Linked DNA regions of Homo sapiens. The protein of the gene in region 2 purifies or fractionates together with the protein of the main gene of each other region. This does not show direct contact. Each region holds a gene or a part of one and is shown on either strand. Other genes may lie near its edges. The genes, in order: MTHFR, GCN1, SAFB, INF2, EPB41L1, NDUFA5 and ECH1.

Region 1 (4,175 bases), on a different chromosome or scaffold from region 2:
CCTGATAGGCACTGGTTCTAGAGGAGATGTCAATGTCATTGTCAGCTTGCACTGGGGAGGATGGAATGTGTGGGGCCTCTCTCCCATGACTCGGCCTGTCAAACCAGTTGCTGCTGTTCAGAAATGGCTTCTTCGTGGAGTCTTCCCTGACTGATTGGGAGAGGGGTGGCTGATAGCCCTCAGACCTGTCCAGACTGAGAAACTCACGTCCCCACTCCCCTCACCCTTTGCTTATGGACGTGCCAACGCCACAGTTCATTATTCCGCCCACATGGCTGCCAGTAGTCCTGATACCTTAGGTGTCTGCGAAAGGGCGTCTGGCAGGGCTGGGGTTGGTGACAGGCACCTGTCTCTCCCACAGGCCTACTTAGAGTTTTTCACTTCCCGCGAGACAGCGGAAGCACTTCTGCAAGTGCTGAAGAAGTACGAGCTCCGGGTTAATTACCACCTTGTCAATGTGAAGGTAGGCCAGGCCCCAGGGTTCCCACAGAGTACCAGGCCCTTCGTTGAGCAAACACCCAGCACCTAGCCTGGGCTAGGCATTGTGCAAGACAGAGAGATACAGGCAGAACTGGGGCCCTGCTCTTAAGGAGCTCCCAGCCTAGAGTGAGGGAGGCAGATCAATGTGTGACCACCAGCCAGTGTAAGTGGGAAAATCAAGTTCAGGAGAGGATGCTGTCGGGTCCAGAGGAGGGATATCTCACCTGGGAGGCCAGGGAAGGCTTCTCAGAGGGTCATCTGTGGGAATCACTGAGGACAAAGAGGAGTTGGCCAACAGGAGAGAAGGGTATTCCTGGGACAGGGCAGAGGACAGGCAGAGGCAGTGAGCTGCACCATCTGGGGAAACGGGGAACATGAGCAGGAGGAGGCGGGAGTGTTAAGCAGGGGCCAGGCCCGCAGAGATCATGGTTGTCCTGCTGGAATTTGAGTTTTCCCTCAATGCAAGGGAAGCCTTTCTCCAGCAGTGGGGTGGCTTGGTTCCTGCTTTATTTTAGGCAAATCACAGTGGATAGTCATACGGATGAGAGAGATTGGGGACGGCTAGAGCCGGGGAGGCCAGTGAAGAGACCCCTGGAGTGACCCAAGCCAAACACACTCCTGGAGGTGGGCTAGACAAGAGGGAATGGATCAGAGAGTGAGCAGGGGGTGCTCAAGGAGGAGAGGGGAAGTGGCCAGGACGCCTCTAGGTTCAGGCTTGTGTGGGGAGAGATATCATTCACAGATGCAGGCAGAGGAGGCCAGGAGCGGAGGCACAGGGAGAGGGGAGTGGAGGCGCAGGGAGAGTGGAGGCCGGGAGTGGAGGCGCAGGCAGAGGGTATTGAGCCCAGACAGCCTCATTGAGTCAAGGCTGTCCAGGCAGTGGGACTCCAGTTGTTCTTGGCCCAGGTCTTACCCCCACCCCACATCCCCTCAGGGTGAAAACATCACCAATGCCCCTGAACTGCAGCCGAATGCTGTCACTTGGGGCATCTTCCCTGGGCGAGAGATCATCCAGCCCACCGTAGTGGATCCCGTCAGCTTCATGTTCTGGAAGGTAAAGGAGCCGGGGGCAAGCTTGCCCCGCCCACCTGGAAAACCGTGGGGAGGGATTGGGACCAAGTCCCAAGCGTGTGCTGAAGGCCACACTGGACCCAGCCTTCAGGGCACACCCAGCTCTGACTCACCCATGTCACTGCTGATGCAGGGTGTTTATTTCTGGGCAGGGGTGGGAAGTGATACTGGCAGTGGGCCTTGTTCTATTCCGGGAAATGTCCTGTTGAGCAGAGCCCTTGGAGAGCCCTGTTAATCTTGCCTCTGTGTGTGTGTGCATGTGTGCGTGTGTGCGGGGGTATGTGTGTGTAGGACGAGGCCTTTGCCCTGTGGATTGAGCGGTGGGGAAAGCTGTATGAGGAGGAGTCCCCGTCCCGCACCATCATCCAGTACATCCACGACAACTACTTCCTGGTCAACCTGGTGGACAATGACTTCCCACTGGACAACTGCCTCTGGCAGGTGGTGGAAGACACATTGGAGCTTCTCAACAGGCCCACCCAGAATGCGAGAGAAACGGAGGCTCCATGACCCTGCGTCCTGACGCCCTGCGTTGGAGCCACTCCTGTCCCGCCTTCCTCCTCCACAGTGCTGCTTCTCTTGGGAACTCCACTCTCCTTCGTGTCTCTCCCACCCCGGCCTCCACTCCCCCACCTGACAATGGCAGCTAGACTGGAGTGAGGCTTCCAGGCTCTTCCTGGACCTGAGTCGGCCCCACATGGGAACCTAGTACTCTCTGCTCTAGCCAGGAGTCTGTGCTCTTTTGGTGGGGAGCACTTGCGTCCTGCAGAGGACCACAGTGGGTGGCACCTCCTGAGAAGGCGAGGAGAGTGGTTGTTGCCAACTAAGCCCTCGAACCAAGGCAGCCTCCAGAGCCAGCCTGGGACTCCCAGTGAACTTACACTTGGAGCCCGTGCAGTACAGGCAAAACACGCAAGGGCATCAGGCACTGGTGGCATCGTAGAAGAGATGTGGCAAAGTGCTGTACCCTTCCACCTCCTAGAGGTGGGCAGCTGGGCCCCACCTACTTGTGACTGAAGGGGCACACCACTGCCCTGCCTGCCCACTTAGCCGTCCATGGCACCAGCCCCCTGGATGGGCATTGGGCTGACACCTACCATGCTGCTTTTTGGCACAGTTGTCTATTCTGAGCCTTGAGAGAAAAAGTGCCCCTTAAGGGTTGAAGGCAGTCTGAACCCTTGTGCTTGGTGGGGCTCGTGGCCTTCCCCTTTTGCCTGGCTGTGGAGGCCTGATGCTGCCCCGTTCCCTGTCAGAGGCTAAGATGAGATTTGCCAGCACAGGGGCCCCAGATCTGCCTGGGCCTGTGCAGCAGCCCAGCTTCCTGGTGTATTTTTCAGGTAGGCCCTTGTCCTGCCAGCTGCCTTCCTCATCCCCTCGTCCTGTCCCAGAGGTTATCTGCCTGGCCTGGCTCCCCACGAGTCACCTGCAAGCCCCAGGGCCTGGGGGCAGTGACTGGCAGGTGCAGATGGGCTGTTTCGTGTAGTGGAAGAGCAGCCTGATGGCCAAGGGGGTGGACGCAATTGTGGGATGTCCTCTTTACTCCCTTCCTGGCCTCACTGGCTGGGGCAGAGGGGCAGCCGCTAGGAGAGACTGAAAGCAGCAGCTAGGACTGAGGAGTGGGTTTTATTGTCCTTCAGAGCTCTTCAAGCTGTCCCCTCTGTCATCACTCCCTGGATGTGTGGGGCATGGTTCCTTCCCTGGGAAGGCTAAGTTCAGTTCTGTTTTTTATTCTATGAGAACAAGTCACAGCTGCAGCTGGGCCCCATGCTCTGCCCCAAGCCCCCAACCCCGCGGTGCTCTGGCGGCTTCCTGTCCACTCTCGGGGCCCTTGGGGCCTGGCTTGCTCCAGGGTCTTGGGCTACTGGCAGCTCCTCTCCTTGGGCTCCTGGCTGCCAGGCGTTGGTGCCACTTCTTAAAGGCCTGGAACCAGGGAGGAGAGGAAATGCTATTGTTGTGGGCTTTCTCCGGGGTCTGTGCTGTGCCTGCTAGAGCAACCCCTGTACCCAGCTCCTTTTGTCCCCAGGGCCCCTCCCTCTGCCCCAAGCAGCCAGCCAGTCTTGCCTAGGCCAAATGCACAAGCTCAGAATAGATCTGATGGTGAGCTGGGAAGCTGTACTCAGAGCAGAGCAAATGAGGGAGGGGGCGCTCAGGACCCAGGCCCTCCATGGGCTAGTGTGAGTGGCAGCCATGCCTCATGCCACACCTTCTTCGCAAACTGATGGACCGGGTGGGCCTGGCCTGAGCTGGGGCCACAAATCAAAGCAAGGGCTCCAGCATCCAGCCTGTGTGTTCTGTAATGGAACTGACCCCCTCCCCTGAAAACGAAGGGGCCCCGGGGCTGGCAAGCAGGGAAAGCTCCACGGTGCGTGGCTGTGGCACAGACTTCTGGAAGGCTGGCTGAGTGGAATGCAGGGAAGAGGGCAGTACCTGGGAAAGGACCCACCCATCTTCCTGCTGCTGTAACTGCTGAGCCACTCGCAGTCGCAGGATCCGCTGCCACCACGTCTGCCAGGCCCATCTCAGGTGCCACTCCCTGAGCTTTGGGGACAGTTGGCAGAGAAGGCCTCTTGTGCTCACGCTCCCCCGCAGTCCCCAGCCCTTCTGCCTTTCTCCCCCGACACTGC
Region 2 (4,175 bases):
ATGTGAAATGCTATTATTTTGAAAAACTACTTTTTCAAAGGAAAAAATTCAGGACCACGTAAATACAAGGAAAACATTGTTTAAAGATATTGCAGTTTTTGTTTTTTTTTGTTTTTTGTTTTGTTTTGTTTTGTTTTTGAGACAGAGTCTAACTCTGTCACCCAGAGCTGGAGTGCAGTGGCGCGATCTCGGCTCACTGCAACCTCCGCCTCCTGGGTTCAAGCAATTCTTCTGCCTCAGCCTCCCAAGTAGCTGGGATTACAGGTGTCTGCCACTACACCTGGCTAATTTTTTTGTATTTTTAGTAGAGACAGGGTTTCACCAGGCTGGTCTCGAACTCCTGACCTCGCACAGCTCAGATTTACCAGCTCCCCCTATCCCCTTTGTGTGCCTGCCACAGCCTGCACACCCACCCAACTCCAGTATTTCCAGACCTTCATTGGCACTGAACCTCCAAACAGTCACTCTGGTTTTCCTAATTAACAATAAGTAAGCCGGGCGTGGTGGCTCAAGCCTGTAATCCCAGCACTTTGGGAGGCCGAGGTGGGCAGATTACCTGAGGTCGGGAGTTCGAGACCAGCCTGACCAACATGGAGAAACCCTGTCTCTACTGAAAATACAAAATTAGCCGGGCATTGTGGCGGGTGCCTGTAATCCCAGCTACTCAGGAGGCTGAGGCAGGAGAATTGCTTAAACCCGGGAGGCGGAGGTTGCAGTGAGCTGAGATCGCGCCTTGCACTCCAGCCTGGGCAACAAGAGCGAAACTCCGTCTCAAAAAAAAAACAAAACAAAAAACAGTAAGTAAATCTTTACTCTTGGACCCACCTGTATTGTATCAAAAGTGTGCCTGTGTTTCTGTATAGTCAGGGGTTGAACTGGATTTTTAGTTAGGTGGGTACACATTTGTGCAGGGAGGATTCTCCAAGGTCATTTGTTTCACAGGCTTGTTCTGAGGGCTGAATGTGGAGTGCGTATCCTGCTGTCAGTTGCTCAGTAGATGGGCTCTGCAATTATACACTGAGTCCCTTTCCCTGTCTTGGCATTAGAACTGTGCTTCAGTACTGCCGATAGTCTGCCCTGCTTGTTAATGTATTCAGAGGAGGATTTGAGTCACTTATCGATATGGACAGGTCTCCACTAAGCCAAACCCCAACGCAGCCAAGGCTGCGAGACAGCTCCCTCAGATAGCGGCCGCCGCCTCCTCGGCCTCCTGCTCCTCCAGTGTATCAAAGCATGCTGGATATGACCAGGAGGCCAAGCGAAACCTGTCTGTGTTTGGCCTCTCTGACGGGCTATCTGTCCCCAGCCCTGTATGAGAGCTGGACTCGCTGTGGTGGTTTGGGATTGTCATTTGTTCTCATGCCTGTGGTACACTGTGGCTTTGGGTCTACCACAACTGTCTTTCATGGATGTGGGTTCCTCCCACAGGTTGGGATTGCCCTGAAGCCCTTCCTGCCCCAGCTGCAGACCACTTTCACCAAAGCCCTGCAGGACTCCAACCGGGGGGTGCGCCTGAAGGCCGCAGATGCTCTGGGGAAGCTCATTTCCATCCACATTAAGGTGGACCCCCTCTTCACAGAGCTGCTCAATGGCATCCGCGCCATGGAGGACCCAGGTGTCAGGTACGGCGCTGGCAAGGGAGCACTGTGGCCTCCAGGAGGCCAGGGGTTGCTGTGGGCCGAGCCTGCGCTGGCAGGAGGGGTGGTGGTGGAGGCACCCAGGGCTTAAGGCGGTGCATTGCTTCTGCAGGGACACCATGCTGCAGGCCCTGAGGTTTGTGATTCAGGGAGCAGGGGCCAAAGTGGATGCCGTCATCCGGAAAAACATCGTCTCACTCCTGCTGAGCATGCTGGGACACGATGAGGTACGGCTGCAGGCAGGACTAGTGGCAGCACTGGACCACTGGTTTCCCTCCTCCTCCTTAGGTTGAGTTCTTCACTTTGTGTTAGAACCAGTACAGCTCAGTAGTAATAAGCATTCCTGACATTTCTATCACCCTGTATGCTTCACCAACATTTCCTCGGGTTTCAAGGGAAACGGGGCAGGTATTGTGGATATATTGGTTATTTCCGTTTGTTTGTTTGTTTTTTGGCTGAGTCTTGCTGTGTCACCCAGGCCGGAGTGAAGTGGCACAATCTCGGCTCACTGCAGCCTCCGCCTCCTATCAAGCGATTCTCCTGCCTCGGTCTCCCGAGTAGCTGGGATTACAGGTGTCCGCCACCATACCCAGCTAATACTTGTACTTTTAGTAGAGATAGGGTTTCACCATGTTGGTCAGTCTGGTCTCAAACTCCTGACCTCAGGTGATCCACCCGCCTCGGGCTCCGAAAGTGCTGGGATTAACAGGCATGAGCCACCGCGCCCGGCCGGTTATTTCTATTTTATAGATGAGGCAAGTAAGCTTTGTAGAGACCCAGACCTCTCACCTATTTGCTCTCTGATCTTAAAGAAGTCACTTTCTCTGTCTGCCTCTCATTTCCACTTTTGTAAAATGAAGAGGTTTATTTATTGTTTTGTGAAACATTTGCCGAGCTAAAGGGCCTATCCCAGAGGTGCATAGACCTCGTGGTCACAGACCTCAAGAAACTTAGTGTGTAGTGGGATAAATGGTCTCCAGGGTGTGTCCCGGTGGCAAGTCTTAGAGGTCTATTTTCGAGGGTGAGACTTGTCTGGGCCATACCCAGCAAGTAGTAGAGTCCAAACCAGAAGCCCTGGACTCCTGGTTCTGTCCCAGTTCCATCAGCCTCACCTAGTCTGGAAGCATCTGTCAAATATTTGGCTGCGAGCACTGTGGGGCCAGTAGGGAGTTGAGTCTATGGAGAAGAGTTTTCTGTTCCCTTTTCAGACAGCCCTCTGTTGTGGTCTAATTTACTTTGTAGGGCCAATCTAGGAGGAGAGGGCCTTTGGGCTCACATGGTTTTACACGTCATTGACACACACACACACCCACACACACTCCTCCTGCCCACACCTGCAACACACACACTTGCTGCTGCACTTCCCATGGCTCCAAAGGCCTAGTTCTGGTCCCCAGGCGCCAGCTGTCGGACTCCAGCCCCAGCCTTCTCTGTGGGGACAGACAGGAAAGTCTGCTGTCTTGGTCACAGTCTTTCAGGGCTTCTACAGAGTCATGTGTACAGTGCAAGCAAAAGTTAGTATTGAAACATATTTGCATTTTACCACAGTGCAGCTTAAAATAGATGAAGTTGGAGAGAGTCGGTGTCAGAGCCAGCTTTAGCTTGGCACCTGGGCTTCTGCTTCGAGCTCAGAGGCCCAAACTGCTGGCAGTCCATTCTCTTACCCTCTGAACCTCCACTCAGATTGAAGGTGGCAGTTCAGGGTGCCAGCCTGGCATTAGCTTTTTGGGTTATTGAGTCCCTGGTTGGTGGTTTGTTTTGGGGACATGTTGAGTTGGCACCTGTAATAAGGAACATAACTTAAAATCCTCTCTTGGTATTCCATAGTTAGCTGGCCAGGGAGGAGCACGGAGCCGCTCGCGTACCTGGCTCTGATTTGAACAGGAAGTGCTTGCCTTTCCTTATCTTCCTTGGCTTGATTAGTGGCTTTAGTTTGACTTCCTAGGATGAACCCAAGTAATTTCGGTGGCAGTGGGGCACTCATGCAGTAGGGAGATAGCAGGAGTCATTCTGGCCACAAGATGACACAAACTCTGTGGGAGAAAGGAGCTCAGAGTGGCCGTCTCTAGCCGGCTTCCCTGGTGGCTGGGGGCAGGTGCCTCCCCTCCTGCCCCTCCCGCCCCTCCCTGCCTCACAGGGCTGTTGATAGTAATTGAGATAATAAATATGAAACATTCAGCCTTCCTAAGAAGAAAGATGCTATGTAAATACAGTTATTACTGCTATTACAAGGATGATTACCATATGCATACACACTGGGGTTTTCTATAATTAAGTGAAGTGCTGGCTGTGTAATGTTTAACTCCATACCAGTGGCAGCCCAATCTGGCAGGGGAGCACGAGTGCCTACAGGAAGGACTGGATCTTGAGTCTCTGAGTTGGCTTTTCCACCTTCTTTGTTGCTGTCCATCCTGGGCTCTAGAGCTGCCTGCCTTGGTTCCCACACAGCTGGTGTTGTTCCCTGCACCCCCTCACTCCCTTCTCTTCCCTGTCAGGACAACACTCGCATCTCCTCAGCCGGGTGCCTAGGGGAACTGT
Region 3 (4,175 bases), on a different chromosome or scaffold from region 2:
GGAAAGTGTAAGTGGAAAACCAAGAATACCCAGATGAGAAAAACCCTCTGCAACATGAATCCAGTTTCCGTTGCCAGCTAATCACAGCAAACTAACAAACTCCACTAGGCACAGAAACAAGACAGAATCTCCTGGGCTCATGAGCTGCCCACCTGACTTTGTGGCTCGAGATCGCTCTGAGGGGCCAGGTTTCTGATCATCTTGGTCCTTACTCTTTTCTCCACTTCCGTCGTCACCCTTCTTAGCATCATCTTTTCTGTCACATTTATCATCCCTCTTAAGGTTTGTAGATCTATAAAAAACAGACATGTTGGCTGGGCGTGGTGGCTCATGCCTGTATTCCCAGCACTTTGGGGGGATGAGGCGGGCGGATCACATGAGACCGGGAGTTCGAGACCAGCCTGGCCAACATGGTGAAACCCCATCTCTACTAAAACCACAAATGGGCATGGCTATAATCCAAGCAAATCGGGAGGCTGAGGCATGAGAATTGGTTGAGCCAGGGAGGTGGAGGTTCAATGAAAAGAGATCTTGCCACTGCACACCAGCCTGGGCAACAGAGTGAGATTCTGTTTAAAACACCCTGCCCCGGCCAGGCATGGTGGCTCACGCCTGTAATCCGAGCACTTTGGGAGGCCGAGGCAGGCGGATCACAAGGTCAGGAGTTCAAGACCAGCCTGGCCAATATGGTGAAACCCCATCTCTACTGAAAATACAAAAATTAGCCGGGTGTGGTGGTGCACACCTTAGTCCCAGATACTCAGGAGGCTGAGGCAGGAGAATTGCTTGAACCCAGGAGGTGGAGTTGAGGTGAGCCGAGATCACACCACTGCACTCCAGTCTGGGCGACAGAGCGCGACTCCATCTCAAAAACAAAACAACAACAACAAAAAACACCCTGCCCCTTTAATTTAGCCAGGAAGGAGGGGTACCTGTCACTGTTGCTCGACTTCTCCTTTTTCCCGTCACTGTCTCTTTTGTCAGAGGTTTTCTTTCCCACAGGTTCATTTTTGGCCTGAAAAAGAGAATCAAGTATTACCCCCATTTCCTAATGTGGGCTATATCCTGGGAAGAAAACGGCCACTCACTTTCTCCACGGAGATCATCTTTCCGTGGAGCTCCGTCTTGTGCAGGTGGTTAATGCATTTTGTGGCCTCTTCTGCTGTGGACATCGTGACAAAACCGTAACAGCGAGCTCCAGGACTCCGGGCATTTGTCACAACCTTGGCGCCCACCACCTCAAAGGAAAGCAGGCAAATATGACTCAGACATGAAGCCCACTGAGCGGGGCATGGGGATATGAACACCCCACAGGGAAGTCTGCTCATCAGGGGTCCGACAAGTGTTAGACTGGGGAGGACAATGCTACTAATGCTTCTGTTTCGCTGTTGTTCCTCCAAGGACCTCTGGCCAGTTCTAATCGCTCATCTAGTTCCTCAAGGGGGCCAGGAGGGCAATGTAGGGGAACAGACGAAAGGGAAATCAAACAGGGTTCTGCCAGTGTTCCTTTAATATGGTCTAAAACTTGTGAAGAAATGATTCCAAATATACAGTCATGCTACGTAGGTGGTAAATTATGAAGTGATGTAATGTGGGCAAAAAAAGAAAAAAGAAAAAAAAAAGACTTCGGCACAGACTGATGCAAGGAAAGGTCTGTGAGCCGTGCTCTGGAACTCAGATCTGCCCTATCATTGACTGTAACAAAACGCAGTGATGTGTTTCAGTTACTGTAGACACATCCTTTCCAGTCTACCTGGTTTTCTCGACTCCAGCAGGATGCAGTTAGGGTCGCCCTTTGACGGCAGAAGACACCATGGCTCAGGAAAAGCCCTGCAGCAGCCAGTGGCCGAGGCTGGTAATCATGCTCATCATGCCACATGGAATCCTAGTCCCAGAGGACATTCTCAGAGAGGCCCGGTCCTCTAATTAACCCACATCAGGCCTGCTGCGCTCAAGACACTACAGTCTCCAGGGCAACACTTCCCCACTGAGCACACCCACCCGCTGGGGGACGCCATGGAGTCAGGAAAGGGGGTCTAGTAGGGGAGACTTGGCGCAGGTGTTGCCAGCCACACACCTTGTATCACTGAGGCTCAAGAAGCCCTTAGTTATGTCCGTAATAATGACATAATTAGTTTTATCCTTTTTTTTTTTCTTTTTTTAAGATGGAGTCTTGCTCTGTCCCAGGCTGGAGTGCAGTGGCACGGTCTCGGGTCACTGCAACCTCCACCTCCTGGGTTCAAGTTGTTATCCTGCCTTAGCGTCCCAAGTACCTGGGATTACAGGCATGCGCCACCACGCCCGGCTAATTTCTGTACTTTTAGCAGAGACAGGCTTCACCATACTGGCCAAGCTGGTCTCAAACTCCTGACCTCGTGATCCACCCACCTCGGCCTCCCAAAGTGCTGGAATTACAGGCGTGAGCCACCACACCCAGCCTGTTTTATCCTCTTTTAAGTTCTTCGAAGTCAGTATCAGGGAAAACACTTGGTTTTCTATATTGCAATGTGTTGAACCCTCACTGTGTAACACAAAGGATTGGACTCCTTCCTTTGGTAGTCCCCGAAACCGACTCTGAGAGAGACGAGGAGCCCTGAATGCAGGAGGCTGTTTGGGAGGCAAGTCTGGGAAACACCAGGGAGGAAGGGAGTGAGAAAGCACAGGGAGGAGGGCCAGGCGGCTGCGCTGGGCACTGCAGGTAGGGGGCTGGTGCCACCAGCCCCACCTTCACGGGCTCAGGAAAGGCAGGTGCTGCAGACAAGAGGCCACTAGAACTGCCCCCAGTGGTGAACTGAGGCAGCAACTTTGAGAGCCCCCAGCTGCTGAGGTGAGGTTCAGTCAATGGACCCAAGACACCCGTGGTGAGGACCCCTATCATCAGACTCCAGGGTCCCTGTTCTGAGTTCTGAGTTCCAGCATCACGAACACTGTTCTAAGAACACTGCTGTCTCCCAGACATGCTGACCAGCACCCCACCAGCCAACCCTGGCAGCCCAGCCTGAGTGCGACGTCCTGAGGACACAGAAATGGATCCACGAGCCATCACAGGGAAGGGGGCAAGCTCGCAGAGAAGGGAGGGAAATACAGTGGTGATGTGGGCTCTGGAAGCTTCCACACCACTCTCACCTCTACCTGTGGACGGGCAGACCCTCCCCAGCCATTAGCAAGTGTAAGCTCCTTGGTATCTCTCAAAGAACTCACTGAGGGGAGAGGACCTCCATGTAAAGGCCACACAACGCTGGTTTCAAAGTATCTTCTCCAGAAAAGCTCTGGCACTTACCTTCCCATATTTGCTGAAAAGATTCTTCAAATCTGTAGCTCTGGTTGTAGAAGAGAGTCCACTAACCCAGAAATTTCTACCACAACTGCTGCGACCTATTTCAAAAGAAAATTCTAGTAAAAACCCAAATACCCACAAGATCTTGAGTCTTAGAGACAACCTTTCCAAAAGAGACATGGTTCCCATTTTTCCTGAGGCAGTGGCAGCACTAAAAGCCAAATGGGGCTGTGGGCCTGACCACTATCCTCACCAAGAGCCTCCAGTGCAACACCAGGCCCAGCAGCACTACCACAGGGCCCGTCACAATACTGAGTGGGGCTATTGGGACAATGTGAGGTTTCCTAAGAAAGTTAGCAATTGCGGGCCGGGTGTGGTGGCTCACGCCTGTAATCCCAGCACTTTGGGAGGCTGAGGTGGGCGAATCACGAGGTCAAGAGTTCGAGACCAGCCTGGCCAACATGGTGAAACCCCATGTCTACTAAAAATACAAAAAATCAGCTGGGTGTGGTGGCGGGCGCTTATAATCCCAGCTACTCAGGAGGCTGAGGCAGGAGAATCTCTAGAACCCGGGAGTCAGAGGTTGCAGTGAGCTGAGATCGCGCCACTGCACTCCAGCCTGGGCAACAGAACAAGACTCTGTCTCAAAAAAAGTTAGCGATCGCTTAATTACAGGAGGAAGTGCAGTGTGCAACGGCCATGTAGCAGAACAGTCAACCTTGGTGTCAACAATGCACTGTTTCTCTTTCCACGTATAGCTCTGTATCTATCCCATGTTTTTACTCCTTTAGAACACTGATTAAGAAGGAATTTGGTAGGGTAAAATTATTTCTCAGTTAATGCATTTAATGAAGGGTTACAGGATGAATGTGCTCCCAACACAAGGATCTGCACCAAA
Region 4 (4,175 bases), on a different chromosome or scaffold from region 2:
AGGGAGCAGGGCCCAGCCAGGGAGGAGAAGAGGCTGTGCCAATGGCTGCCCCGGGCTCCAGGAGCAGCATTGCAGCGGTTGGGCTTCTAAACATCACTCGAGCCCCACCCCCAGTCCTTCCCCTCAAAGTGTGGGGCTGGAGGCCTCTGGAGGAATTGGATCCTGCTCTGCGCAGGCCCGGGAGGGTGCCTGTTGGATGGGGCAGGCGGTGGAAACCCCCTCCCTTTGCCCACCACCCAAGCCAGAGCCCTGTGCTGAGTGCCCCTCTGGCAGGGACAGGTGGGGGGTGCAGGCCACTGATCCCTGTCTGTGCCATCCCCAGCTACCAGCTGCGAATCGAGTGCATGCTGCTGTGTGAGGGCGCGGCCGCCGTGCTGGACATGGTGCGGCCCAAGGCCCAGCTGGTGCTGGCTGCCTGCGAAAGTGAGTGGGGCCAAGCGGGGCACGTGTGCAGGAGGGACAGGCCTCCGAACCGGGGCGGGAGGGCTGCTCGGGGCCCCTGCTACTGCCAGTATCATAATGGCTGCTAAGAGCACCTAAGGGTGCCAGCCTTCACCACCACTCCGGAAACCACCCTGCTGCCACCACCTCGGTGCACACACCTACTGGACGCACAGACACACGCATGCCCACCGCCACTCGGGCACGTGCACACACACAAGCACACTGCCACTCTCCGGCACGCGCACACACAAGCACACCGCCACTCAGGCACGTGCACACACGCATGCACACCGCCACTCGGGCACGTGCACACACACAAGCCCACAAGCACAGTCACACACATGCACACAGGACACACAGACACACGTACACACCCCCCCAACACACACACCCTCACATACATGTACAGACATAAGTGCACACACACGGGCACCATCTCTGAAAGGGGAATCCATGGGGACCTGCCACAGCCACTGGGCAGGGAGAGGGACAGGTACGGACCAGTGAGGCACAGCTCACGTCTGTCAGGCACACTGTAGGTGTCCACTCCCGTCGGTGGAGGGTTTGCAGCCCCCAGGCCCTGTCCTGTGATCCTTCCGGTGCTGGGCTGAGCCTGGGGAGGAGCCAGGGAGTGCAGGGGCACTGGCAAGCAGGACCACACCCCACCGCCAGGGCATCTGGGGGCTCCGAACCAAGAGCCCCTCTCCAGCCCTGGCTGCCCCTGCAGGCCTGCTCACCAGCCGCCAGCTGCCCATCTTCTGCCAGCTGATCCTGAGAATTGGGAACTTCCTCAACTACGTAAGTCAGGGGCAGCTCCCCATCCCACCTGGTGCCAGGGGCTGGTGAGACTCACTCCCTGCCCCTCCCAGGGCAGCCACACCGGTGACGCCGACGGCTTCAAGATCAGCACATTGCTGAAGCTCACGGAGACCAAGTCCCAGCAGAACCGCGTGACGCTGCTGCACCACGTGCTGGAGGTGGGCCGTGGTGGCGGGGGCATAATGGGAGGGCTTCAAGTCCCCCCGGACCTGGGGTGTAGAGGCGTAGAGGCCATACCCCCATGCCCACCACTCAGGCCGCCGGTCTCCCTGTCTCAGGGCTCCGTCTAGAGCCAGCAGCCTCAGTCAGAGCCACGCCCCCACCCCTCCCAGCACCCCTTCCTTCCTGCAGCACTGGCTCCCCTGCACGAGCCTTGTCCCTCCCCAGGATACCTGTCCCTGATCTGGGGGACAGTCCCTAGGAAAAGCAGAAACATCACAAAGTCATAGCCAGGCCCAAGGGAAAGATTTGAGGGTCTGGAGTACTGGGGGTTTTCTGGACCTTAATTGCTAAGGGTTAGAGCTGGGGGAGTGGGAACAGGGTCATCCCCAGGTGGAGAGTATGACCACAGTGGATCTCACTGGACGTGTCCCATTGCAGGAAGCGGAAAAGAGCCACCCCGACCTCCTGCAGCTGCCCCGGGACCTGGAACAGCCCTCGCAAGCAGCAGGGTAGGTAGCTCCTGCCAGCCCGCCCACCTCAGCCAGGTGGGGGCCTGACTTCTGTCCCCAGGCAGTGAGGTGGCTGCCCGCCAGGGCTGGGTCTCACAGCTGCAGCGCAGCCCCGGCGCCACGGAGCCCTGCCCAATAGAACACTTCCCTTTTGGGACAGGACCGGGTCTGCCGTGGCCTATCCCCTTCTGACTTAAGCGAGGAAACAGGCCTAGAGTGGGCAAGGGCTGGCCAGGTCAGGGTCACACCACGGGCAGGTCTAATACAGCCCCTTCACAAGGTGGACCTTCACGACAGCCGTGAGCAGGCTCGGGCCTCCCTCATTGTATAGATGAGGAAACGGAGGCCCAGGAAAGCAGTGTCACCTCCTGGGTCACACAACCCAGGCAGGAGGGCAGCCTGGGCCACCCCACTACACAGTCCGGGCCCCTAGCACGGAGTTCTTCCCGGGCTCCACCTGCCCTGGAAGGTTCTCTGGCTCAGGAGCTGCTCAGCCTTGGGGAGAACTAGGCAAGCAGGACAGGCTGACCGTTAGGGTCCCCGCCCAGATGCTCACAGGGGGCTGAGGGTCAGCTGGAACAGGCACTCAACCCCAACACTGCACGTGCAGCCTCAGAGTACAGCCTGCAGGGTGCACAGTGGGGTGCCGGGGGGTGCAGGGGAGGGGCTCCCCTGTCCCAGCGAGGCTGACGTCAGCCGTTGCTGTCTCTGCCCGGCCCTCCTCACCTTTCAGGATCAACCTGGAGATCATCCGCTCAGAGGCCAGCTCCAACCTGAAGAAGCTTCTGGAGACCGAGCGGAAGGTGTCTGCCTCCGTGGCCGAGGTCCAGGAGCAGTACACCGAGCGCCTCCAGGCAAGTGGGCACCTGGGCCTGGGGCTGGCGGGAGAGGCTGCCCTGATAGAGTGAGCTGGGCGAGTGGCTGTGCTGTCTCCTGGCTCCAGGGTGGATCCTGGGGCCCGAGTTTCCCCAGGTGTGCATGGTCAGGGCACAGGCCCCTGCTCCTTGTCAGAGACCACCGTCCTCAGGGCCTGTCCCTGTGGCCGTCACCCTCCCGCAACTCAGGGCCTCACCCCGGGTGGTGCCCGCGCGGGGCTCTCACGGGACTGTCACGTGCCCTTGCCCCCAGGCCAGCATCTCGGCCTTCCGGGCACTGGATGAGCTGTTTGAGGCCATCGAGCAGAAGCAACGGGAGCTGGCCGACTACCTGTGTGAGGACGCCCAGCAGCTGTCCCTGGAGGACACGTTCAGCACCATGAAGGCTTTCCGGGACCTTTTCCTCCGCGCCCTGAAGGTGGGGCAGCCCGGCGGGACACAGCCTGTCTGGCTAGAGTGGGGTCCCGAGGCCCCTGGCCTTCCTCCGGCAGGATGGGCAGAGGCACCTTTCGTCGGGCCGACACAGCCATGTGGGCCCTGCGCTGCTGCGGCTCAGGGAGGGGGACGCCCAGGCCCATGGAGCCCCTGAGGGATGCCACGCTGGGGTGACGGGGCCACATCTGCCAGTGCAGGAGAACAAGGACCGGAAGGAGCAGGCGGCGAAGGCAGAGAGGAGGAAGCAGCAGCTGGCGGAGGAGGAGGCGCGGCGGCCTCGGGGAGAGGACGGGAAGCCTGGTGAGGCTGGGCCGGCTGGGCGGGGAGGGGGTGACTCTGGGATCCTTGTCTGTGCTCCAGCCTCCCCACCACCCCCAGCCCTCTAGGTGGGCTCCAGGGTCCCATGCCGCTCTCTGAGTGCCCCACGCTCCTCAGTCAGGAAGGGGCCCGGGAAGCAGGAGGAGGTGTGTGTCATCGATGCCCTGCTGGCTGACATCAGGAAGGGCTTCCAGCTGCGGAAGACAGCCCGGGGCCGCGGGGACACCGACGGGGGCAGCAAGGCAGCCTCCATGGATCCCCCAAGAGCCACAGAGCCTGGTAAGACCCTCTCCCACTGCCTCCTCATGGTCCCCTTGCCACTGTCCCTACCCTGTGCCTCCAGGAAGTCCTCCTGACTTCACTGGAAAGCCCTCTCCTCTCCCTGGGCCACCCTGGAGGCCCCTAAGACTGGGGACAGCCGAGGGGACAGGTGGTGGCCGCTCAGCCCTCATCCCTCCCTCCACTCACTCCAGCTCCTCCACTGTAACCGCAGGCCCTGCCCTCAGTGCTGAAGCAGCAGTCCAGCCCGCTGGGCTCCAGAGAGATGAGGCCAGGCCCACTGACCGATGCCCTTGGGCTCAGAGGGTGCTAGAGGTGGCAGGAAAGGCAGGCG
Region 5 (3,455 bases), on a different chromosome or scaffold from region 2:
TCCCCACCAATCAACCAATTACAAACACCACACACAGTATTACTACACTGAACCCGTCAGCCCCTACTGTGAGCCAACCCACACCCAGAGTCCAGGTCTCCTTAGCTGGGCCAGTTCAGTGAGATCTAGGAACCTCAGGATACATCAATCACAGTCAGATAATTATAATTTTAGAATGTCAGCTTCATACTTACCAGCACTGTTTATTTTAATATTTTTTCCTGTTATATGTAATATACATAACTTCAAAGCACATCCGTACAAACCTCCTACAAGCTGCACCTTCATAATGAGAAACCATAAGCATACAATGTCTACTTCCCTTCCTGTGGCTTCGTTTTCTGTTCTTGCTTTCTTTTCTTTTTCTCATTTCAAAGGAGAGTCATCTGCAGTGGCCCTCAGAAGGACCAGGACACAGAGGGTGAAGGGTGTGGGGTGGGGGAAGGGGGAAGGGGGAGGAGGGAGCCGAGACAGAAAATGACAGCAAGACATTGAGAGTTGAGGGTGAGGGGAGGCGGGAGAGAGGAAGGTAGGTTTTGCAGCCCAGTGTCAAGATCCAGAAAGTAAGAATCCAGTGTTCCTCCTCTTTCTTTCCAAGTGGGGAATTTTCTTTTTTTCTCGGAAAATGGTTGACTGTGCGTGTCTTGCTGCTGTGACTTCTCTTGCTTTGCTGTGCAAGTGTTTTCCTTTGCATTCAAGTGGGCCTTAGAGATGCTGGAGAAGAACAAATGGAATTGCTCGTCTGCTAACTGTAACGTGCAGAACCAGGGCGGGAGGGACTTCTACAATCATCGTGGTCTGGCTTGCGTTTCTTATTTGGCGGGGGAAAGGGGTGAGCAAGGGATTATAGTTATTATATAATTTTTTTTCTTGAAAAAAATCCCACCAGTTCTTCAATTTGTCTGCAAAGGAAATGTAGGTGTTCAGATGTCGGTTGTTGCTGTCAGCCAACTGCTCTGCCAGCCCCAGCAGCAGTGCAAGGATGCGGTGTTTCCTGTATATATATCTATATCTCTATATATCTATATATATATGCTTTTCCCTTCCCAGTCTCTCATCAGTGACAGTACGTCGCAGCTGGGACGTCAGTGTTGCGTCGGAGAATCCAGAATGAAGGCCCCTTCTTAATGGTTCTCTGGCTTGGGTTGGACCAGAAATGCCAGGATCTCTTCACAGAGGTCAGGATTCCTGGAAGCCAGAGGCATGGGGTAGAATGGGGGGTGGGGAGTGGGGGGAAAGGAAGGAAGAGGACAAGAAAAATTAGTAACTTCTGTCACTTGTTTTAAAATACATGGCAAGAGGTTGTTTTTGCTACCCTTTACCATATGCCCTTTATTGTGACTCAGCAAGGTAGAGTGACTTGCACCTGTAATCCCAGCTACTTGGGAGGCTGAGGTGGAAGGATCTCTTGAGGTGAGAAACTCAAGGCTGTAATGTGTAATCATCATGCCTGTGAGTAGCTATTGCACTCCAAGGCCACGCAGCTTGTGTGTGGCAGCAGAGAACCGAACCCACATCTGTTGGATTCCAGAGCCCATGTGTGTTTGCTCGCTTGTTTCCAGGGAGGTGGTAATCTTTTACTTTGGCCTGACAATGTGTTAAAATGTCCTTTAACACCGAGAAGCTAAGATCATCATCATTTTACTTTTTCTTCCTATCTTGTCAGCTCTAAGAAATGTTTAGTCACGATTGCAGATGTTCTTTTTTCATTTGGTTTTCCTTTCTGTTGTCCGTGGGCTTGCTGTGTCCTGGAGATTAAACCACAGACAGCAGTGTTTAAATAAAGAAATGAAGTCTGGATTCCAGGTTTGGCTCCAAAACTCAGTGTTTAAAGGAGCAGGCTCTGAAATCAGACTCCCTGAGTTCAAATCCCACTCTATGGGCCTGCTAGCTCTGTAATCTTGGGTGAGTTTCTTAACTTCCTTTACTTTAAACAGTTTTTAACAGACGAGTCTTACTATGTTGCTCAGGCTGGAGTGCAATAGCTATTCACAGGCACAATCAATGCACATTACAGCCTTGAATTCCTGGCTGCAAGTGATCCTTCTGCCTCAGCCTCCCAAGTAGCTGGGATTACAGGTGCACGCCACAGTGCCTGGCAAGTTTCTTAACTTCTTTAAGCCTCAATTGCTTCCTCCGTAAAATAGGTTCTGCCTCCCATTATAGGGAGGAACTGAAGCAAGGGCCCAGCATATAGTAAGTGCTGAATAAATACTGGCTGTTCTTATTATGATGATTGTTGCTGTTGTTAATTTAACCACACACTACTCTGATCTCCTTGAGGGTAAGGGCTATCTTTTAACTCTTGTCTTTCCAGTGTTCAACACTGTGCCTGGCACATAGCAACTACTCAAAACCATTTAATGGATGAAACATCATTTCTGCTACTTGCATGCAGTCGAGTGCTAACGGAATCACAGAAAATGGATCTTTCTTGGCTCATTTGACACATAGGAAAACCGAGGCCCAGAGGCTTCAGGCTTAGTAAGTTGGCAAAACCAAGACTAAAACCCAAGGTTCCTGTTTTGGAACAGGTCAATTTTTTCCCATTAAATTTTGGAAGGTTAGGAAGCTAGGCAAGTGCTGCCCTCTTGCTGGTGGTGTTTGGGAGACAGGTCCTCTCTGAAGGAGGTGGGCCAGTGGGAGAAGATGGAGCAGAAACCAGACGTCTGACCTGCAAGGTTGCAGGGAGAGAAGGGAAAAGGTTCTGTGTGACATGAGTGACTTTCCACGCTCATAGCAAGAACTTCAAGAAGGAAGAACTTTAAGAAGGAAGACAGAGTTAACTGAAGCAGGGACAGATGTTTCTGGAGGATTTGCAGAAGGAACAGAAGATGAAGACCAGTAAGACAAACACCCTCATGGAGACAGGGCCTCAGGCACCAGGCTGGTGGTGGAGAATTACGATCTGACTTTCTCAGTACTCTCATCAACCTCTAAACATGGAAAAACCTCAGAGGGACAAGGAAGCAGGTTCACCTTGCTGAGCCCCTTCTGTAGGCAAGACACAGATCCAGTATATCACAGGTGTTGTTTAGTTATTACAGCAACTCCAATGTATACATTAATGACATTTTGCAGATGAGGAAACTGAGGTCAGAGAGGTTCCTCTGGGCACACAGCTACCAAGGTGTTTCTAGCTCCAAAACCTAGTTGTATCCATCTATTCCTTCCTTCCTTCGTTTCGTTTTTTGTTTTTTGTTTTTTACAGGGTCTTGCTCTATTGCCAGGCTGGAGTGCAGTGGCGCGATCATAGCTCATTGCAGCCTGGACCTCCTGGACTCAAGCAATCCTCCCGCTTCAACTTCCCAAGTAGCTGGGACTACAGGTGCCAGCCACCACACCCAGTTAATCTTTTACATTTTTTATAGAAACGAAGGTCTCATTATGATGGCCAGGCTGGTCTTGAACCCCTGGGCTCAAGTAATCCTCCTGCTTCAGCCTCCCAAAGTGCT
Region 6 (4,175 bases), on a different chromosome or scaffold from region 2:
GTCGTAACTCATTCATAATCAGAAGCAAGAACACTGAAGTATTATGACCGTATTTAGTTAAATTTGATCATACAGATGTAATGATTATATGTGTTTATTTCTACAGAAATTCAAATAAGAAAAATTAAAAAAAAAAATTTGCAGTGCTTCGGACCTCACTTTGAAAAATACTGATTCAGGCTGGGTGGGCTCACGCCTGTAATCCCAGCACTTTGGGAGGCTGAGGTGGGCGGATCACCTGAAGTCAGGAGTTTGAGACCATCCTGGCCAACATGGCAAAACCCTGTCTCTACTAAAAATAGAAAAAATAGCCAGGTATGGTGGCGGGTACCTGTAATCCCAGCTACTTGGGAGGCTGAGGCAGGAGAATCACTTGACCCCAGGAGGTGGAGGTTGTAGTGAGCCAAGTTCACGCCATTGTACTCCAGCCTGGGCTATAAGAGCGAAACTCCGTTTCAAAAAAAAAAAAAAGAAAGAAAGAAAAATACTGATTTAGTAAATGACTTGATTTCCAAAAAGGTCATTAGCAATAAGTTGTTTTGTTTCTGACCAGTCTGGCCAACATGGCAAAACCCCGTCTCTACCAAAAATTAGCCAGGCGTGGTGGCGGCCACCTGTAATCCTAGCTACTGTGGAGGCAGAGGCAGGAGAATCGCTTGAACCTGGGAGGTGGAGGTTGCAATGAGCCAAGATCATGCCATTGTACTCCAGCCTGGGCAACAAGTGAAACTTCGTCTCAAAAGAAAGAAAGAAAGAAAAATACTGATTTGGTAAATGATTCGATTTCCCAAAAGGTCCTTAGCAATAAGTTAGTTTTGTTTCTACTTGTTATCATACCTTTGACTTATCTAGAACTTGTTATACACAGAAAATACAGAATGTTCCCATGTTTATATACAGGTTTTTCCTAAGTTATAAAGGGTGTAGATAGGGCACAGACATAAAGAAGTCAGAGCAAAGAAGAGTTAAATTAAAAAAAAAAAGCAAAAAAAAAAAACAGATGTGAGTTTTGTTTGTTTTGTCTTTGAGACAAGTGTTCCATTAAGTCTTTGGTAATATTTTAACCTATGGAAATTTGTATGGTTTGTCTTTTCAGAGGCTAAGAATATTGTACACAAAGATTCTTGATGTTCTTGAGGAAATCCCTAAAAATGCAGCATATAGAAAGTATACAGAACAGATTACAAATGAGAAGCTGGCTATGGTTAAAGCGGTAAGTAGCTAAGTCAGTTTTGTTGTCTTGTGTAACATTTAACCAAAAAAGTTTAGTTCCTTATTTTTTATATATTCGACACACTTTTCTTCTATTCTCCTTCCTTGAATGCTCTTTTCCCATCATTCCTCCCTTTTATTCAGCAAACTCTTGTTTATTGAGTGTTTTCTATATGCAGGCCTCTGTTACATACTGGAGTTTGAGACTAGGATCAGATCCTTCCTTGAAGTAACATTGTAGCTGTTCCTTTTACCTCTCTTCACTATTTAGTCCTTTATTGATCTTTTGCTTTTTATCTTGGATATATCAATCTTGATCTCCTTTTTCTAATCTTAGAGAACAATAAAAGCAAAACAAAAAAGGGCATTTTTTTTTCAAAGAAACCTGTCAAAAAGACTAGACTGTTATTAAGTAGCAGTTAATAAAAGTCTAGACTGCTGATTCATACCAAACTATATTGTACTATTGTTAAATTTTCACACTAGCAATCATTAAATGGACTTTATGTAATTATCTAAAATAGTGCTTAGAAACTCTGAAGGTAATTTATATACATGCATAAGTGATCCTAGTCACATATATTTCTTCTTATTAGATTACCAGACTATATAGTTCAAAGAGAATTCCTATCTTTCGTTAGGTATGCAACAAAACAATGCAGTTTGTATTATATCGTATTTTGTATTGTATTATATGATGGGTCTCACTCTGTTACCCAGTCTAGAGTGCAGTGGCACGATCACAGCTCACTGCAGCCTTGACCTGCCAGTCTCAAGCAATCCTCCTACCTCAGCCTCCCAAGTAGCTGAGACCACAGGCACTCACCATCATGCCCAGCTAATTTTTAAAATTTTTTGTAGAGGCGGAGTTTCACTGTGTTGCCCTAGCTGATCTCAAGCTCCTGGCTTCAAGTGACCTTCCTGCCTTAGCCTTCCAAAGTGCTGGGATCACAGGCATGAGCTACCTGCACCCGGTGCCTCACCTATTTTATCATCATCTTTCAAATAGCCTCAAATGTTTTTAGCTTGTTCCTATCTTAAAAATAAAAAAAACTGTATGCTTGTATTTTCCTTTACTTATTGTCCTATTTTTGTTTTCTCCCATAGCCAGTTTCAACCAAAGAAGAGTTTACTCTCATACTTCTTTACTTACTGGTTCCAAAATCCTTTTCTCTGCTATTTAAACTGCCTTATAACTAATTGATCTGTTTGTACTTCCATTATACTTCATTACATGCTCCACCATACAGCCAATAATAGACTGATTTTTTTTTCAATATGTAAATCTTGTGATGGTACAGTTGTCCCTTGGTATCCATGAGGGATTGGTTCCAGGATTCCCATGGATGCCAAAATACAAGGATGCTCAAGTCCCTTATATAAAATGGCATAGTATTTGCATATAACCTATGCACATCCTCTTGTATACTTTAAATCATCTCTAGGTTACTTATAATACTACAATGTAATGCTGTGTAAGTAGTTATACTGTATTTTAAAAATTGCTGTATTGTTATTTTTATTGTGTTTTTTTGAATATTTTCCATCTGTGGTTGGTTGAATCCATTCTTAGTTGAATCCACAGATGCAGATCCTGAGGGCCAACTGTGCTGTCTTGCTTAAAATCTTACTGTGGTTTTCTGTTCAGTGTTTCTCAAAGGCTGAGTTTAAGGATTTATGTTGAGCTGGTTGTATGAAGCTTGCTTAGCTACCTTTATCTGCATGATTTTGATGTGTGGCCATGTTTGGGAACCACTGGCCTAACAGGGTAAAAACATGGTATAGAAGGCCTTCTAAGTTCTGGCTCTTGGTTATTTTCTCAATCTGATCCTGTTGCTTCCTGTTTTATACTCTATACTTAAGCAGTACCAAACTGCTGGCAGTTCTGTGGATTCCTTGCATTTTTATTTTTGTGTTCATTTGTATTTTCTCATTTCCTGGAATGCCTTTACGTTGTTTGGTAGTTCTTACTTTTTCTTCATAAATCATCACTTCTTCTGTGAAACCTTTTCTTACTTTCTTAAGTAGAGTTTGACAACTTTGTTACCTCCTTTCCATTGTACCTTCATGCTGTATTATGTCTCCACCAGCCATAAGCTACTTGTTAATGATATTGGATTCAACTTTGTATCCTTAGACTCTAGCATGGTACCTGGAACATAAGGTTCCTTAGAAATGTGTCTTTATCCCAAAGGCTAGATATAACCCCAAACACTTAACAGTTGTATCTCTGATTCCTGTTTTTGGTAAAATTATCACAGATTTTTAACCCTGCATACAGCCACACACAAAATCTTTAGTGAATATTGCCATTATTATAAAATATCTATTTACTAAGCCTAAGGTGGAAATAAAAGTAACTTTTTTTTTCAGATTATTACTAGGGAGATAGTACTATTTTGGTGAAAAGCGTTGTTTGTGTCCCTGTCCAAGATTTTCATCTTAGTTCTAATACTTATTTGTGGAGTGACTTGGCATATTGCTAGTTTTCTCGGTCTCAATTTCATCATCTATAACGTGGGTATAATAATACCCACCTCGAACACTTTTTGTTAGAACCGAATGAGGTAATGCACGTAAAAGCTTAACATAGTCCCAAGTATATAGTGAGCATTCAGTACATGGTACCTTATCAAGTTTAATAGCATTATGCCATTGGTGACTAAAAATCACATTATTCACTATCGGTAAGACAAATTTTGAACTGTTCACCTAACACAGGCTTTTTCTGAAATGAAAGTGTCGTTGAACTTTCCTTGCCTTCTTTACCTTCACTCTCCTGAGTCTCTTATAACAGTGACCAGCTTCCCTGTTTTGTTTTTGATTTTTGGTCTCTCATATGAGTTAATTCCCTGTTAAATAATCTGTCTTAAACATGCTTATTACTTTTTCCCCTTTTCTCCCCCTTTCAGCTGTTTTTTATGTATTCACTTCTTTAACCAAGAAACATTTATTGAATGCCA
Region 7 (4,111 bases), on a different chromosome or scaffold from region 2:
AGAAACAGAGTGCTGATTGGTGTATTTACAATCCCTTAGCTAGACATAAACGTTCTCCAAGTCCCCACCAGATTAGCTAGATACAGAGTGCTGATTGGTGCATTTACAGTCCCTCAGCTAGACATAAATGTTCTCCAAATCCCCACTAGACTCAGGAGCTCAGCTGGCTTCACCCAGTGGATCCTGCACCAGGGCCGCAGGCGGAGCACTCCTCAGCCCTTGGGCAGTTGATGGGACCAGGCGCCGCCGAGCAGGGGGTGGCGCTCCTCGGGGAGGCTCGGGCTGTGCAGGAGCCCACGGCGGCGGGGGGAGGCTCGGGCATGGCAGGCTGCAGGTCCCAAGCCCTGCCCCACAGGGAGGCAGCTGAGGCCCGGCAAGTATTCGAGTGCAGCACCAGCGGGCCGGCACTGCTGGGGGACCCGGTGTACCCTCCGCAGCTGCTGGCCCAGGTGCTAAGCCCCTCACTGCTCAGGGCAGGTGGCGCCGGCCCACCACTCCGAGTGCGGGGTCGCCGAGCTCACACCCACCCGGAACTTGCGCTGGCCGGAGAGCACTGCGTGCAGCCTGGGTTCCCGCCCGCGCCTCTCCCTCCACACCTCCCTGCAAGCAGAGGGAGCCGGCTCCGATCTTGGCCAGCCCAGAGAGGGGCTCCCATAGTGCAGCAGCAGGCTGAAGGGCTCCTCAAGCATGGCCAGAGTGGGCTCTGAGGCCAGCGAGCAAGGGCTGCCAGCATGCTGTCACCTCTCACTTCCTTCTCTCTCTCTTTCTTTCATTTTTGAGACAGGGTCTCCCTCTGTCACCCAGGCTGGAATGCAGTGGAGCAATCTCAGCTCACTGCAGCCTCCACCTCCTGAGCTCAACCCCTCCCACCTCAGCCCCTACCACCTCCCCTCATCCTCCCACTTCAGCCCCTCAAGTAGCTGGGACCACAGGTGTGCACCACCATGCACAGCAAGTTTTTTCACTTTTTGTAGAGGCAGGGCTTGCTATGTTGCCCAGGCTGGTCTCGAACCCCTGATCTAAAGCGATCCTCCTGCCTCAGCCTCCCAAAGTGCTGGGATCACAGGCATGAGCCACCGCACCCAGCCTCCTGCTTTCTTTCTGCATCTCCCTCTGTTCCTCCTCTTGTTCATTTGTTCATTCATTTGACAAACATTCAGTGACACAGTCCAGTGCCAGAGCCCCCTCCTGGGTGCTGCAGATGTGGAAACGGGAAGCAGCCCCGATTCCTGACCCCTTGCTCTCATAGAGATCATGTCTGAGAACAGAAAAATGGGGCTTTTTTGTGGCTGTGCCGGGCCCAGGTCCTTCATCTTTCAGCTCCCAGCTGAATGTGGCCGTCTTATCTTATTTTCAGCAGCAAGACCCCGAAGGCCAGAAGGAAGAAACGGCAGGTCATGCAGTGACCCAGTGATAGAGTAGAACTACTAATTAGAGAAAGAAAAAGGTGGCCACAATTATGTAGCACTCATGGTGTGTGACGCCCCTTTCTAAGCACGTTAAACATATTAATTCTAATCACAGTCCACAAGACAGGTTCTGCTATAAGCCCCATTTAAAGGTGAAACAGATCCAGAGAGCAAGAAACTTACCCAATAATCACAGCTTGTAAGTGGCAGAGCTGGGATTTTGGAACTCATGCTGCCTGGCTATAGAGTCCTTGCTCTTAGCTGCTAAATGTCTGTCATCTGAGTAGCTGGCATGCTGGTTAAAAGTAAGGGGGATTGCCGGGCGCCGTGGCTCACACCTGTAATCCCAGCACTTTGGGAGGCTGAGGCAGGCGGATCACGAGGTCAGGAAATGGAGACTATCCTGGCTAACACAGTGAAACCCCGTCTCTACTAAAAATGTAAAAAATTAGCCGGGCATGGTGGCAGGCGCCTGTAGTCCCAGCTACTAGGGAGGCTGAGGCAGGAGAATGGCGTGAACCCAGGAGGCGGAGCTTGCAGTGAGCCGAGATCGCGCCACTACACGCCAGCCTGGGCGATAGAGTGAGACTACATCTCAAAAAAAAAAAAAAAAAAAAAAAAAGTAAGGGGGACTTTGGCCTCAGGCTGTGATCTGGATCCTATTTCCACTTGTCTTTTCACCTCTCTGTCCTGCCATTTTCTTTTCTTTTTATTTTTTATTTTTGAGCCAGGGTCTTGCTCTGTCGCCCAGGCTGGAGTGCAGTGGCGCGATCATAGCTGACCGCAGCCTGCAACTCCTGGGCTCAAACGATCCGCCCACCTCAGCCTCCGAAAGTGCTGGGATTACAGGTGACCATGCCCAGCCTCATGTGCAGCTAATTTTTTCATTGTTTGTAGAGAAGAGGTCTTGCAATGTTGCCCAGGCTGTTCTCAAAATCTTAGCCTCAAGCCATCCTCCTGCCTCTGCCTTCCAAAGTGCTGGGATTGCAGGTGTGAGCCACTACGCCCAGCCCCAAAATATACTTTTTTATTCATTTGTTTGCCTCCCCATGAGGACAGGGACTGTTGTCTGTATTGATCATTTATTGAGCAGCTCGTGTGCGCCAGGCCCTGTGCTAGGCCCAGGGGATGCAGCAGTGGACAGAAAGACAAAAACTCCTGTGTTCTCAGAGCTCACATTCTAGAAAGGGAGTCAGACCCTCAAGCAGATAAGGACCTAATTATAGGATAGCAGCTGTGCAGCCCGGAGGTAAGGCGGGGTCAGGATGCGGGGGATGGGGCCATCGTTGAGCCAGGTTGGCCAGGGAGGGCCTCTCTAGGAGGTGACCTTTGAGCTATAGCTGAAGGAAGTGAAGGAGTCAGTCTGTGGCTGTTGAAGAGGGAGGGATGGTTGTCAGCCCAAAGGTCCTTGGCTCCCTCCCTCTCCTCTGGGTCTTTACTCAAGGTCACCTTCTCAATGAGAAGATTCTGTACCACTGCACAGCCCTCAGGCAGTGATCTGGATCCTATTTCCACTTGTCTTTTCACCTCTCTGTCCTGCCATTTTCTTTTCTTTTTATTTTTTATTTTTGAGCCAGGGTCTTGCTCTGTCGCCCAGGCTGGAGTGCAGTGGTGCGATCATAGCTGACCGCAGCCTCCAACTCCTGGGCTCAAATGCACGTGCCCGCACACACACACACACACACACACACACACACAGAGTTGGAGACCAGTGTGCCCAAAGTAACAGGTTGGGAACAGTGCACACACACACACACACACACACACACACACAGAGTTGGAGGCCAGTGTGCCCAAAGTAACAGGTTGGGAACAGTGTTCATGCAGGGTAGTCATGACAAGGACGTTCCATTTTGTTCTAAGAGCCACAGGTGGGAAAAAGAGGGTCTGGGCCGGGCACGGTGGCTCACGCCTGTAATCCCAGCACTTTGGGAGGCCGAGGTGGGTGGATCACAAGGTCAGGAGTTTGAGACTAGCCTGGCCAACATGGCAAAACCCCGTCTCTACTAAAAATACAAAAATTAGCCGGGCATGGTGGTGGGCGCCTGTAATCCCAGCTACTTGGGAGGCTGAGGTAGGAGAATCACTTGAACCGGGAGGCGGAGGTTGCATTGAGCCGAGATCCTGCCACTGCACTCCAGCCTGGGCGACAAGAGCGAGACTCTGTCTGAAATAAAAAAAATAAAATAAAAAAAAAGAGGATCTGACCCAAGAAGGTGTCCACTGGCTTCCCCTGGCTGCCTGTAGGGAATAGACTGGGGACACAGGTGGAAACAGGGAGAGCAGGGTGGGCTCATGGAGAACAACTGATGCAGGAAAGGTCAGATTCAGGATCATCTTGAAGTTGGAGCCACAGAAATTGCTGCATCGTGAGATGTTTCTCATCTCAGGAAACATCACCACCATTGACTGCATTGCTCACGCTGCAGACCTTGAGTCCCAGGCTGTCTGGCATCTTGGGGAAAAGCATGGCCTCTGGAGCCAGCTGCATGGTTCCAGATTTTAAAATCCTACTTCTGATGCGGCATGGTGGCTCACACGTGTAATCCCAGTGCTTTGGGATGCCAAGGTGGGAGGATCGCTTGAGCCCAGGAGTTCAAGAGCAGCCTCGGCACAGTCCCAGCCACTCAGGAGGCTGAGGTGGGAGGATTGCTTGAACCTGGGAGTTCGAGGCTGCAGTGAGCCATGATCGTGCCACTGCA

The links.
Region 1: the proteins of GCN1 (region 2) and MTHFR purify together in Homo sapiens (co-immunoprecipitation; one study listed by IntAct). This does not show direct contact.
Region 3: the proteins of GCN1 (region 2) and SAFB fractionate together in Homo sapiens (co-fractionation; one large-scale study listed by BioGRID). This does not show direct contact.
Region 4: the proteins of GCN1 (region 2) and INF2 fractionate together in Homo sapiens (co-fractionation; one large-scale study listed by BioGRID). This does not show direct contact.
Region 5: the proteins of GCN1 (region 2) and EPB41L1 fractionate together in Homo sapiens (co-fractionation; one large-scale study listed by BioGRID). This does not show direct contact.
Region 6: the proteins of GCN1 (region 2) and NDUFA5 fractionate together in Homo sapiens (co-fractionation; one large-scale study listed by BioGRID). This does not show direct contact.
Region 7: the proteins of GCN1 (region 2) and ECH1 purify together in Homo sapiens (co-immunoprecipitation; one large-scale study listed by IntAct). This does not show direct contact.

Annotation. Positions count from the first base shown.
Region 1 is NC_000001.11:11,788,566-11,792,740, reverse strand, and holds part of MTHFR (methylenetetrahydrofolate reductase (NADPH)), read left to right. Parts: intron 1-361; coding exon 362-463; intron 464-1,414; coding exon 1,415-1,534; intron 1,535-1,842; coding exon 1,843-2,061; coding exon of another isoform or gene 2,062-2,201; 3' UTR 2,202-3,281; coding exon of another isoform or gene 3,282-3,471; 3' UTR 3,472-3,697; coding exon of another isoform or gene 3,698-4,089; 3' UTR 4,090-4,175. Other genes in the region: uncharacterized protein C1orf167, read right to left, coding at 3,698-4,089. UniProt on the Homo sapiens protein: Catalyzes the conversion of 5,10-methylenetetrahydrofolate to 5-methyltetrahydrofolate, a cosubstrate for homocysteine remethylation to methionine. Represents a key regulatory connection between the folate and methionine cycles.
Region 2 is NC_000012.12:120,131,980-120,136,154, reverse strand, and holds part of GCN1 (stalled ribosome sensor GCN1), read left to right. Parts: intron 1-1,428; coding exon 1,429-1,622; intron 1,623-1,749; coding exon 1,750-1,864; intron 1,865-4,132; coding exon 4,133-4,175. UniProt on the Homo sapiens protein: Ribosome collision sensor that plays a key role in the RNF14-RNF25 translation quality control pathway, a pathway that takes place when a ribosome has stalled during translation, and which promotes ubiquitination and degradation of translation factors on stalled ribosomes.
Region 3 is NC_000019.10:5,650,178-5,654,352, reverse strand, and holds part of SAFB (scaffold attachment factor B1), read right to left. Parts: intron 3,376-4,175; coding exon 3,281-3,375; intron 1,239-3,280; coding exon 1,089-1,238; intron 1,016-1,088; coding exon 933-1,015; intron 293-932; coding exon 153-292; intron 1-152. UniProt on the Homo sapiens protein: Binds to scaffold/matrix attachment region (S/MAR) DNA and forms a molecular assembly point to allow the formation of a 'transcriptosomal' complex (consisting of SR proteins and RNA polymerase II) coupling transcription and RNA processing.
Region 4 is NC_000014.9:104,709,766-104,713,940, forward strand, and holds part of INF2 (inverted formin-2), read left to right. Parts: intron 1-322; coding exon 323-423; intron 424-1,171; coding exon 1,172-1,242; intron 1,243-1,313; coding exon 1,314-1,421; intron 1,422-1,863; coding exon 1,864-1,934; intron 1,935-2,667; coding exon 2,668-2,788; intron 2,789-3,062; coding exon 3,063-3,227; intron 3,228-3,441; coding exon 3,442-3,544; intron 3,545-3,679; coding exon 3,680-3,841; intron 3,842-4,175.
Region 5 is NC_000020.11:36,227,065-36,230,519, reverse strand, and holds part of EPB41L1 (band 4.1-like protein 1), read right to left. Parts: intron 1,189-3,455; coding exon 1,180-1,188; 3' UTR 1-1,179. UniProt on the Homo sapiens protein: May function to confer stability and plasticity to neuronal membrane via multiple interactions, including the spectrin-actin-based cytoskeleton, integral membrane channels and membrane-associated guanylate kinases.
Region 6 is NC_000007.14:123,547,508-123,551,682, reverse strand, and holds part of NDUFA5 (NADH dehydrogenase [ubiquinone] 1 alpha subcomplex subunit 5), read left to right. Parts: exon of another isoform or gene 1-315; intron 316-1,096; coding exon 1,097-1,213; intron 1,214-4,175. UniProt on the Homo sapiens protein: Accessory subunit of the mitochondrial membrane respiratory chain NADH dehydrogenase (Complex I), that is believed not to be involved in catalysis. Complex I functions in the transfer of electrons from NADH to the respiratory chain.
Region 7 is NC_000019.10:38,817,974-38,822,084, reverse strand, and holds part of ECH1 (delta(3,5)-Delta(2,4)-dienoyl-CoA isomerase, mitochondrial precursor), read left to right. Parts: intron 1-4,111. UniProt on the Homo sapiens protein: Isomerization of 3-trans,5-cis-dienoyl-CoA to 2-trans,4-trans-dienoyl-CoA.